Linked DNA regions of Homo sapiens. The gene in region 2 interacts genetically with the main gene of each other region. Each region holds a gene or a part of one and is shown on either strand. Other genes may lie near its edges.

Region 1 (3,655 bases), on a different chromosome or scaffold from region 2:
GCTTCCACATAGCCAGAAGACTTCTGGGAAACTGGCTACAAGTAGTAGGTGAATAATGGGTAACTTTTACTACATGGACTGCATTTCTTAGGCTTGAATTGGTCATCAATTGTATGCAAAATGACTTCTCTAGAGAATGGCCCCACTGGTCCAGTTCTCCATTCAAAGGCTCAATGCTGCTGCCACCTCCACTGACTAGAAAACCCTATCTTACTGCTCTGGCTCTTTTTTTTTTTTTTTTTGGTATTATTATGGGGTCCTTGTTCTGAGCTCTTTCTCAGATTTCAGCCAGTTATACTTCTTATTGCCCCTACTGACAAAGTCCTGGCTCCATCTCTTTAATAGCTTCCGCCCTCTAAAACTGCTTCCATCAGTGGCCCTTACTCACATCAACAAATGTCAGTTTAAAATTTTCATTTTCATCTGTATAAAGTCATATTGCTTTGTAACCCTCCAGACACATATTATTGGCAGATGTAGCCAGACACATGCTGTCTTTGAATCCAGATGCCTTTGCAGCAGCCCAGAGCTATGTATTCTACAAACCCCTGTGCCCAAAGGGGTAGCATTATGTCAATTGACAGAGTGATGCTGAAATATCAGAGCAATTCAAAGACCCTGCCCAGGAGCTAGCTCAACATTTTGTTATGCCCCACAGAATGCATTGCTAGTTAACTCAAAGCTATTACACCCAGAACAGGGATGGTTTCCATTGATACATCACTGCCTAGCTGAAGGGGCAGTCAACATCATCGACTTACATAACAATCACCAACAATGTTCCAGATAGTAGGCTAGATTCTAGGCTTATACAAAGAGAAATGAAATCTCTGCCCACAAGAAACTTATAAACTAGTTCTAGAAGGTCTAGTTCAGATTTGGGCATGGTAGTGGATACCAACATTGATAAAATTATCATTGGAATTAACACATCATGTAAGTGCTAGCAGGGTACAACACTGTCAATTCCAAGAATAGAACCAAATCCTCCTGTTGACCTTAATAGGTGTGGGACATCTCCGGGAGAGATGAGGCCCTTATAGAGGGTGATTTTGAGAGATACAAATGCTATCATGGCTCTCAGACATACTGAGAAAGGACTGAAGGTATCTGGAGTTGGAGGAGGGAGGATCCTTGTATAGTTAGTTCTATGTTAAAGGACTGATTGGTAGGTTAGGCTGCAGAAATAGTCTATGACCTTGGGTCTGTGGTGGACAGTATATAAGATGATGAAGCACACTTGAAAAGGTAGTGGTTTTTTTTTTTTGTTTTTTTTTTTTTGAGATGGAGTCTCGCACTGTCACCCAGGCTGGAGTGCAGTGGCACAGTCTCAGCTCACTGCAACCTCTACCTCCCAGTTTCAAGCGATTCTCCTGCCTTAGTCTCCCAAGCAGCTGGGACTAGGCCCGGCTAATTTTTTTTGTATTTTTAGTAGAGACAGGGTTTCACCATGTTGGCCAGGCTGGTTTTGAATTCCTCACCTCAAGTGATCTGCCCGCGTGGGCCTCCCAAAGTGCTAGGATTACAGGCGTGAGCCACCATGCCCTACCAAGAAGGTAGTTCTTAAAAGGATACTTTTACTAACAAATAATTCAGAAGTGATAAAGGATCAACTGAGTAGACTTACCATCTGCTCCTTCATTGCTTTTGCTTCTTTTATTGCGGCGAACACGCCTACTTTCTTCTTCAGAGTATGGCTTTTCATCAGGGAAGAAGAAATTCAATAGGGCCATCTGTAAAAATTACAAGTACATTAGTCAAAGGTTGACCCCACTCAGTCATAGCCAACATAAAAAACCAGCTTTCCATAGACAGTCTACCTGTACCTTAAGTTTGATGTGTCTAAAGCCTGAGCCCATCTTCCCCTCCACTGTACAAACCATTTTATTTTTGATACCATTATTATTCCAATCATGTAGGCATGACATTTTGGTTAATTTCTGAATCCCATTTCTTCCACCCTGAATATCTAATAAATAATCCATCAGGTCCCATTTCTTCATATATTTCTGGGATTCAGAGAGCCTAGCCACAAATTTCTAACTTCCCACACATACTGAGGATGCTCACTCAGAATTTGAGTTGAACAGAAAATTGAACAGAAAACCTTGAATTTGGCTGGGAGCAGTGGCTCACGCCTGTAATCCCAGCACTTTGGGAGGCCGAGGTGGGCGGATCACCTGAGGTCAGGAGTTCGAAACCAGCCTGACCAACATGGTGAAACCCCATCTCTACTAAAAATACAAAATTAGCCGGGTGTGGTGGTGGGGGGTGCCTATAATCCCAGCTACTGGGGAGGCTGAGGTAGGAGAATCGCCTGAACCTGGGAGGCAGAGGTTGCAGTGAGCTGAGGTCGCACCACTGCACTCCAGCCTGGGCAACAAGAGCAAAACTCTGTAAAAAAAAAAAAAAAAAAAGAAGAAAGAAAGAGAAAGAGAAAGAGAAAGAGAAAGAAAGAAAGAAAGAAAGAAAGAAAGAAAGAAAGAAAACCTTGAATTTGCTGCTCCCCATTGGACTTCATTATTACACATTCATGATTTTGCCACATTGCTATTTATGATGTAATTTTGGTTTGTTCCCAAAATGCTGTGCATCCAATACTGAGGTACTATTTGTCAATGCTCTTCTGGGAGTTAGTCATGACAAAGTACACAATTATTTTCTCCTCTTCTGAGATTCCTATAGCACTTGTGGTCTATAAGACTAATTTTGGTACCTGGTCCTCTACTGTCTTATAATGGTCTCTGATAATAATACAATATGTTTCATATGTGAATGGGTCTGGCTTCACTAATAATCATAGCTTAAATATATATTTGCTGAATTGAATCATAATCTTTTAGCATGAGTGCTTTACTGTGGTAAAACCATGTGCTTGAGGTAAACAGTAAACACGGTAGTAGGACTGAGTGATTCTAATGCCAACTCTGCCACTTACTAGCTGTATAACCTGGAACAAGTTACTTAAACTTTAGTTTCCTCATCAGTAAGTAGGGATAATAATAGTACTTTGCAGATAAAACAGTTGCAGAGTTAGAACAGTACTTAGCATGTAGCATGCACTTAATAAATGTTTGCTATTACTATTATTATTAAACTTAATCTTCAAAATAGAATGGTTAATTTGGGGCCTAAAATAGAACAAATGAATCTGCATTTTCATTCTATTATCAGTTCAAAAAATAAAAAATTCCAGAGTCCTCATGTCTGCTCCATCTCTGATTAAGTGGAAAAAAAATGGGTTGGACCCAAGAAAGCCCCAATATTCCACACAAATTTTCTTCAAAATTCTGTGATTTACCCAATATCCTTAAGGTGTAGGATTAGCATCTTGAAGGATACATGAATGTATTAAATATAAAATTAATAAATCAATGTGTAGGTAATTTCCATCTTGTCAACAGGACTGCATTTCAAAATAAACTGCCATTTTTGTCAAAAATGGTTGAATATCAATCAACAATTTCACATGGTTCAACTGAGTAGTATTTTTGAGTCACTTGATTGGAATGTAAAAATGCATTTTCTCATACAATCAACATAATAAAGTTTGGCTAGTTCTCCTGATAAGCCCACAGAAAGTTACTTAACTCACAATATAAATAAGCTAAGTACTAATAATAGTATAAAACTAAACTGCTGTTTACAATAAAAT
Region 2 (3,655 bases):
AAGTTACATGAAGAAAGTTGGTAATTCCCTTACAGAATTTTTTATAAGGGAATTAAAATTTATAGCATTTTGGTAAGAGGAAAAACAGGATGTAGAGAGAAGGATTTGTTTAAACCTTCTAAGACTATAGAACCATAGTCTATATATAGACTTAAATAATATAGATCAATTTAGATGTTTATTTTGCTTTATGAGACTCTAAAAGTAGTTTCACTAGAAAACACCTAACATCTAATACATTCTTGCTGCCTATGAATAATATAAATATATTTTCTAAGGAATATTTCTGGAAATTATTTTTTATTTTCTCAGTACTTGTTGGGCCCACTTTATGCAGCTTTGAAAATGGAAAGTATGGAAATCATTGAGGAGATTCAATGCCAAACTCAACAGGAAAACCTCAGCAGTAATAGTGATGGAATATCACCCAAAAGGCGTCGTCTCAGCTCGTCTCTAAACCCTTCTAAAAGAGCACCAAAACAGACTGAGGAGTATGATGACCTTCATTCAGTTTGTATTTAGCCATTAAATAAAACTTTGTTCACTTTTAAAAATCAGCTTTAGTTAAGTGCTTTGATTTAAATACACAAAGAACATCTTTCTAAATGTAGCCAAGGGAGTGCTTAAAATATTTTTATAATTATTGTAGACGGTTAGTAGTATAAAACATTTCATGGTTAAATATAGTTACTTTGCATGTTTTTATATGCTTATCTAATTTAACTTTTTAATATGTGAAAAATCTTTGAGACTGTGCATCTATTAGCAATTTTTAAAACATTAACCAACTATTTTTTATAAAGTGGCTAAGTTGCCATATTTCAGTTACTTCTGAACATTGTTTTAATTGTTTTAAATCTTAGTATAAATTTCAGGCTGGGCGCGGTGGCTCACGCCTGTAATCCCAGCACTTTGGGAGGCCGAGGCGGGCAGATCACGAGGTCAGAAGATCGAGATCATCCTGGCTAACACGGTGAAACCCTGTCTCTACTAAAAATACAAAAAATTAGCCAAGCGTGGTGGTTGGCGCCTGTAGTCCCAGCTACTCGGGAGGCTGAGGCAGGAGAATGGCGTGAACCCGGGAGGCGGAGCTTGCAGTGAGCCGAGATGGCGCCACTGCACTCCAGCCTGGGAGACAGAGTGAGACTCTGTCTCACAAAAAAAAAAAATTTTTTTGAATAGTTGATATTACATAGTATGTTTTATTCTAAATATGTTTCATGTTTTAACCAAATTTATATTGCATATGAATATCTCTCTACTATATTCATAATTATAGAATTAAACATGTGGACATGAACCAAAAGAGCATATTATGGAGTGCACTGAAACAGAAAGCTGAATCCCTTCAGATTTCCCTTGAATACAGTGGCCTAAAGAATCCTGTTATTGAGATGTTAGAAGGAATTGCTGTTGTCTTACAACTGACTGCTCTGTGTACTGTTCATTGTTCTCATCAAAACATGAACTGGTAAAACAAACTTCTTGTTTCTTGGGGTTGGGTTTCCTGTAATGAACTTGGATTTACTGTTTACTCATTATTCACTTGACTCATGTAACCTTAGAACACAAACTTTTCACTGAAGTAGTTAATAAATTTATTTTCTATTGAGTCAAATGCTAGGTACGGTGCTAAGCACTGTATATATCTTAGTTAATATTTACAATAGTCCTGTAAGGTAAAGGCTATTATGCCTATTTTAAAAATTAGAAACTGACACTCAGAGAAACTGAGGCTCTTTTTTGTCTGAAGCCAAAACTGACTTTCCTGGGGACACATGATTAGAAAGTACCAGAACACATTTGTGTACAACTCAAAACCCAGTGTTTGGCTGTTGAAGACAGGGTCTCGCTTTGTCTCCCAGGCTGGTGCACAGTGGCATGATCATGGCTCACTACAGCCTTGATCTCTATCCGGGGCTCAAGTGAGCCTCCCATGTAGCTGGAACTATAGGCATGTGCCGCCACACCCTAATTTAGAAAAAATTTTTTTTGTAGAGATGGGTTTCCCTATATTGGCCCGGCTGGTCTCAAACTCCTGGGCTCAAGTGATCCTCCCACCTCAGGCTCCCAAAGTCATTTGGTTCCCAAATCCTAAGGGTGATTTAAGCTGACATAAATAGATTCAACTTAAAATAGTAATAACATATTACTTGATTTGCATGTTTACTTTAAATTGTTATAGATAAATTTCGTACTCACAATTTCTTTTGGCTTTACTACAATTTTATGTTTGACTATAACAAAATTCATCTTAATTCCAATGTTTTTAACAAAATGTACTTACTGCAGCCGTACTTTCAAGGACTGTCAACATAAATCCAAGAAGAAACCTTCTGTAGTGATAACTTGGATGTCATTGGATTTTTACACAAAAGTGCTTAAGAGCTGTAGAAGTTTGTTAGAATCTGTTCAGAAACTGGACCTGGAGGCAACCATTGATAAGGTGGTGAAAATTTATGATGCTTTGATTTATATGCAAGGTGAGTACAAATTAGCAACAGATCAGAATAACCTTTAAAGATAATCAGTATAGAAATATGCTTTCTTTTTTGCCTGAAGCCTAAGTGCGTGTTTGGAATACTCAGAAGTTTTTTCCTGATTTCAGTTCTATTAAATTTGTCAATAATAGAAGTTCTGAGTTGCCAATTTATGTGCATAATATTTTGATTCTTTAGTCAATAGAAATTATTTATAACTTCAAAGTTTTTTAATTTGGGAGTTTGAGGAATGCCGTGATTCTTCTTTAAAACAGGCATAGATAACATGTTTTTATAAAGTCACATTTAATTTCTTTGGGTTCACAGACCTCAGACCATCGTTTATAGATCTCTGTGTTAAGAATTTCTGCTTATCCAATGATCATTATGATAGTATTTCAAATGTCTTTATTTTTATTTAAAAGAGATATGATTAAGGAAAAGTTATAATTAATGACTTATTTTGTGCTTCTGTAGTAAACAGTTCATTTGAAGATCATATCCTGGAAGATTTATGTGGTATGCTCTCACTTCCATGGATTTATTCCCATTCTGATGATGGCTGTTTAAAGTTGACCACATTTGCCGCTAATCTTCTAACATTAAGCTGTAGGATTTCAGATAGCTATTGTAAGTGCTCACAAGAATGTGTGTGTGGTTTGTTTTATTTATCTATCTATCTATCTATCTATCTATTTATTTATTTATTTATTTATTTATTTATTTATTTTTGAGACGGAGTCTTACTCTGTCGCCCATGCTGGAGTGCAGTGGCGCAATCTCGGCTTGCTGCAACCTCCGTCTTCAGGTTCAAGCAATTTTCCTGCCTCAGCCTCCTGAGTAGCTAGGATTACAGGTGCGCACCACCATACCCAGCTAATTCTTATATTTTTAGTAGAGGCGGGGTTTCACCATGTTAGCCAGGCTGGTCTCGAACTCCTGACCTCAAGTGATCCACCTGCCCCAGCCTTCTAAAGTGCTAGGATTACAGGCGTGAGCCACCATGCCTGGCCTTGTGTGGTTTGTTTTAACTCATCTCTATATAGGACTTCTAAGACTTATTTATATTTTTTTCAATAATTAAAAGAGCAGGTACATTTTTAATAGTTCAGAAGGGGGTTAGATACATAAAAAGTAACACATAAAAGCCTGCCCCACATATCCCATTTCCTTTC
Region 3 (3,655 bases), on a different chromosome or scaffold from region 2:
AAAATACAAAAAATTAGCCGGGCGCCTGTAGTCCCAGCTACTCGGGAGGCTGAGGCAGGAGAATGGCATGAACCCAGGAGACGGAGCTTGCAGTGAGCTGAGATCACACCACTGCACTCCAGCATGGGCGACACAGCGAGACTCCATCTCAAAAAAAAAAAATAATAATAATAATAATAAACTTTCATATAAGGCAAGGGCTGATTGCTAGAAGAAATCTCAATATTAGGCAATTTTTACTATTATTATTATTGAGATGGGGTTTCCTCGTCGTCCAGGATGGAGTGCAGTGGCCTGATCTCAGATTACTGCAACTTCCACATCCCAGGTTCAAGAGATTTTCTCACCTCAGCCTACCAACTAGCTGGATCTACAGGCGTACATCACCACACCCAGCTTATTATTATTATTTTTTAATTTGTACTTTGGCCGGGCACGGTGACTCACGCCTGTAATCCCAGGACTTTGGGAGGCCTAGGCAGGCGGATCACCTGAGGTCAGGAGTTCGAGACCAGCTGGCCAACATGGTGAAACCCTGTCTCTACCAAAAAAAATACAAAATTATCCAGGTGTGGTGGTGTGCACCTGTAATCCCAGCTACTCAGGAGGCTGAGGCAGGAGAATCACTTGAGATTGGGAGGCAGAGGTTGCAGTGAGCTGAGATTGCACCATTGCACTTCAGCCTGGGCAAAAAGAGCGAAACTCCAACTCAAAAAAAAAAAAAAATTTGTACTTTTGATAGAGACAGGGTTTCACCATGTTGCCCAGGTTGGTCACAAATTCCTGGGCTCAAGTGATCTGCTTGCCTCGGCCTCCAAAAGTGCTGGGATTACAGGCCTGAGCCACCGTGCCCGGCCTTATTATTTGTTTTTAAATTACACATGCGACTACAGACAAATTATAAAATACAACATGTAGCTTGGTGCAAAGACCTTCAGCAGAAAAGGATACAGCTCTTGAATGGAAACAATGTCTCTAGCTCCTGCATGGCCACTGTCCTTGCAGGTACTATGCCTGGCTTTCGATAATCTTTTGCTCAGAAACTGAAAAAGAAAAGATAGTGAATACAGTACTTCATAGTCAAGTAATAGCAGAGGTGTTTTCAAAAGCCTTGAGATAATAAAAGGTATTCAAAATATAATCAAAGATCTAACATTCCTCAAAGAATTAAGATACACACAGACTAAAAACAAAGACATCCCATGACTGTCTATAACATATAACAATCCTAATAATACCAATTATTTGGTGAAGACTTATCACCTGCTGGGCATAGTTTTAAGTGCTTTATGTCCATTCTCATTTCTTTTTTTTTTGAGATGGAGTCTCGCTCTGTCCCAGGCTGGAGTGCAGTGGCGCAATCTCAGCTCACTGCAACCTCCACCTCCTCGGTTCAAGCGATTCTCCTTCCTCAGCTTTCCGAGTACCTGGGATTACAGGCGCCTGCCACCATGCCCAACTAATTTTTGTATTTTTAGTAGAGACAGGGTTTCACCACGTTGGCCAGGCTGGTCTTGAACTCCTGACCTTGTGATCTGCCTGCCTCGGCCTCCCAAAGTTCTGGGATTATGGGCATGAGCCACGGCGCCCAGCCCCATTTAATTCTTATAACAATCATAAAAAATACAGATTATTAGACCCAATGTCAGAAAAGGAAACTGAGGCTCAGGGACATAGTTTGTCCAAGCTCACACTGGGACTGGAATCCAGGCCTGACTCGAAAGCCCACACTCCTCTCAATATATCACAATGCCTCCCCTGTAGAGCAGAAATGGAGAATCACATTATTAGTTTGCTTTCATTTTGTTCTTACCTCATGCTCAAAAGAGTTCAGGATCTCTGAGGTAAGGCCAACTTTATGTGTGCTGGTGCAGAAGGCTATAAGCTCGCCTACCATTCCCTCCTCATTCTGTCCATACTGAACACAAAGCTCTACCACTGTAGAAAGGAAAATTGGACAAGTAAAAACTTAGTTCATTTCTCGAAGTTTCACCTAGAAAAGCAAAAATAATCCTGGTTTACTCCATCAATGTTTATTCAGAATCTATTAGTGCCAGGCACTGTTTTGGGCAATGAGAAAACAGAAGCATCCTTGTCCTTACAAAGCTCACCACTGAGGGGAGACAAAAGAGGATAAGGGCAGAATCAGGGGGACCAATTAAAGAATCATGGAAAAGCCCAGGTGAGAGATGATGGTGGCTTGGATCAAGGTGGTGGCAGTGGAGATGGCGAGAAGTGGCTGGACTCTGGATAGGACTTTACATGCTGGAAGTGAAGCCAGTGGGATCTGCTAACTGAATGTAAGGTATGAGAAAAAGAAAGTCAAGGATGATGCTGATATTTTTAGCCTGTGCAACAGGAAGAGTGGCGTCCCTATTAACTGAGATGGGGAAAAGAGCCAGAGGAACTACTCTGAGGAGAGAGAGGAGATACCAGGAGCTTAGTTTTAGACATGCAGAGTTTGAGGTGCCATTTAGACATCCAACTGGAGACAGCAGGCTGAACAAACCAGCCTGTAGTTCAGGCAAGGGTTGTGGGCGGAGGTATAAATTTGGGAACCATCAGTAAATACATGGGATATAAAGCTATGAGACCCCAGGTGAGATCGCCAAGGGAGTGAGCGTATCTAGAAGGGAGAAAAGATCCCAGGCTTGAGTCTTGGGGCGCCTTAGGGCCTCTGAGGATGAATCGGCAAAGCCTGAGAAGCGGTGACACAAGCAAAGCTGAAGAAAAACTAGGAGTAAGCCGGATGCAGTGGCTCACGCCTGTAATCCAGTATTTTGTGAGGTTGAGGTGGGCAGACTGTTTGAACCCAGAAGTTTGAGACCAGCTTGGGCAACAGGGTGAAACCGTTTCTATAAAAAATACAACAATTAGGTGGGCTTGGTGGCATGTGCCTGTAGTTACAGCTACTTGGGGGCTGAGGTGGAAGGATTGCTTGAGCCAAGGAGGTTGAGGCTGCAGTGAGCTGTGATTTGCCCATTATACTCCAGCCTGGGCAACAGAGCAAGACCCTGTCTCAGAAAAAAAAGAAAGAAAAACTAGTAGTGTCTAAGAAGCTAAAAGAAAAATGTGTTTAAAAAAAGAAAAAATGACAAACAGTGTCAAGTGCCGGTGCTAATTCAATTCAAGATGAGGACTGAAAATTCATCACTGGTTTTAGCATGGTGAAGGTCACTGGTGACCTTGAGTAGAGCAGCTTTGGTGAAGTGGTGGCAACAAAAGAACTTACTGAAATGGATTTAAGGAGGAAATATTTAAAGATGGCAAGGCCCCCCCCCTTTTTTTTTTGGAGACAGAGTTGCACTCTGTTGCCAGGCTGGAATGCAGTGGCACGATCTCGGCTCATTGCAACCTCCACCTCCCCGATTCAAGCGATTCTCCTGTCTCAGCCTCCCAAGTAGCTGGGACTACAGGCATGCGCCACCATGCCCAGCTAATTTTTGTATTTTAAGTAGAGACCGGGTTTCACCACGTTGGCCAGGATGGTCTCCATCTCTTGACCTTGTGATCCGCCCTCCTCCGCCTCCCAAAGTGCTCGGATTACAGGCGTGAGCCACCGCACCCGGCCGACCCTTTTGAGGTCTGCTGTAATTGGGAAGGAGAGAACTGGAGTGGGAAGTAGGGTCAACAGAGTATTTTAAAGGCAAGATTG

Evidence for each region.
Region 1: changes in ATR (region 2) and EDA together harm fitness less than expected from each alone (positive genetic interaction), as found in Homo sapiens cells (one large-scale study listed by BioGRID).
Region 3: changes in ATR (region 2) and POLA2 are lethal when combined (synthetic lethality), as found in Homo sapiens cells (one large-scale study listed by BioGRID).

What each region holds. Positions count from the first base shown.
Region 1 is NC_000023.11:69,955,105-69,958,759, reverse strand, and holds part of EDA (ectodysplasin-A), read right to left. Parts: intron 1,734-3,655; coding exon 1,628-1,733; intron 1-1,627. UniProt on the Homo sapiens protein: Cytokine which is involved in epithelial-mesenchymal signaling during morphogenesis of ectodermal organs. Functions as a ligand activating the DEATH-domain containing receptors EDAR and EDA2R. May also play a role in cell adhesion.
Region 2 is NC_000003.12:142,558,079-142,561,733, reverse strand, and holds part of ATR (serine/threonine-protein kinase ATR), read left to right. Parts: intron 1-312; coding exon 313-491; intron 492-1,279; coding exon 1,280-1,471; intron 1,472-2,292; coding exon 2,293-2,483; intron 2,484-2,957; coding exon 2,958-3,110; intron 3,111-3,655. UniProt on the Homo sapiens protein: Serine/threonine protein kinase which activates checkpoint signaling upon genotoxic stresses such as ionizing radiation (IR), ultraviolet light (UV), or DNA replication stalling, thereby acting as a DNA damage sensor.
Region 3 is NC_000011.10:65,264,865-65,268,519, reverse strand, and holds part of POLA2 (DNA polymerase alpha subunit B), read right to left. Parts: intron 1,939-3,655; coding exon 1,814-1,938; intron 1,044-1,813; coding exon 952-1,043; intron 1-951. UniProt on the Homo sapiens protein: Accessory subunit of the DNA polymerase alpha complex (also known as the alpha DNA polymerase-primase complex) which plays an essential role in the initiation of DNA synthesis.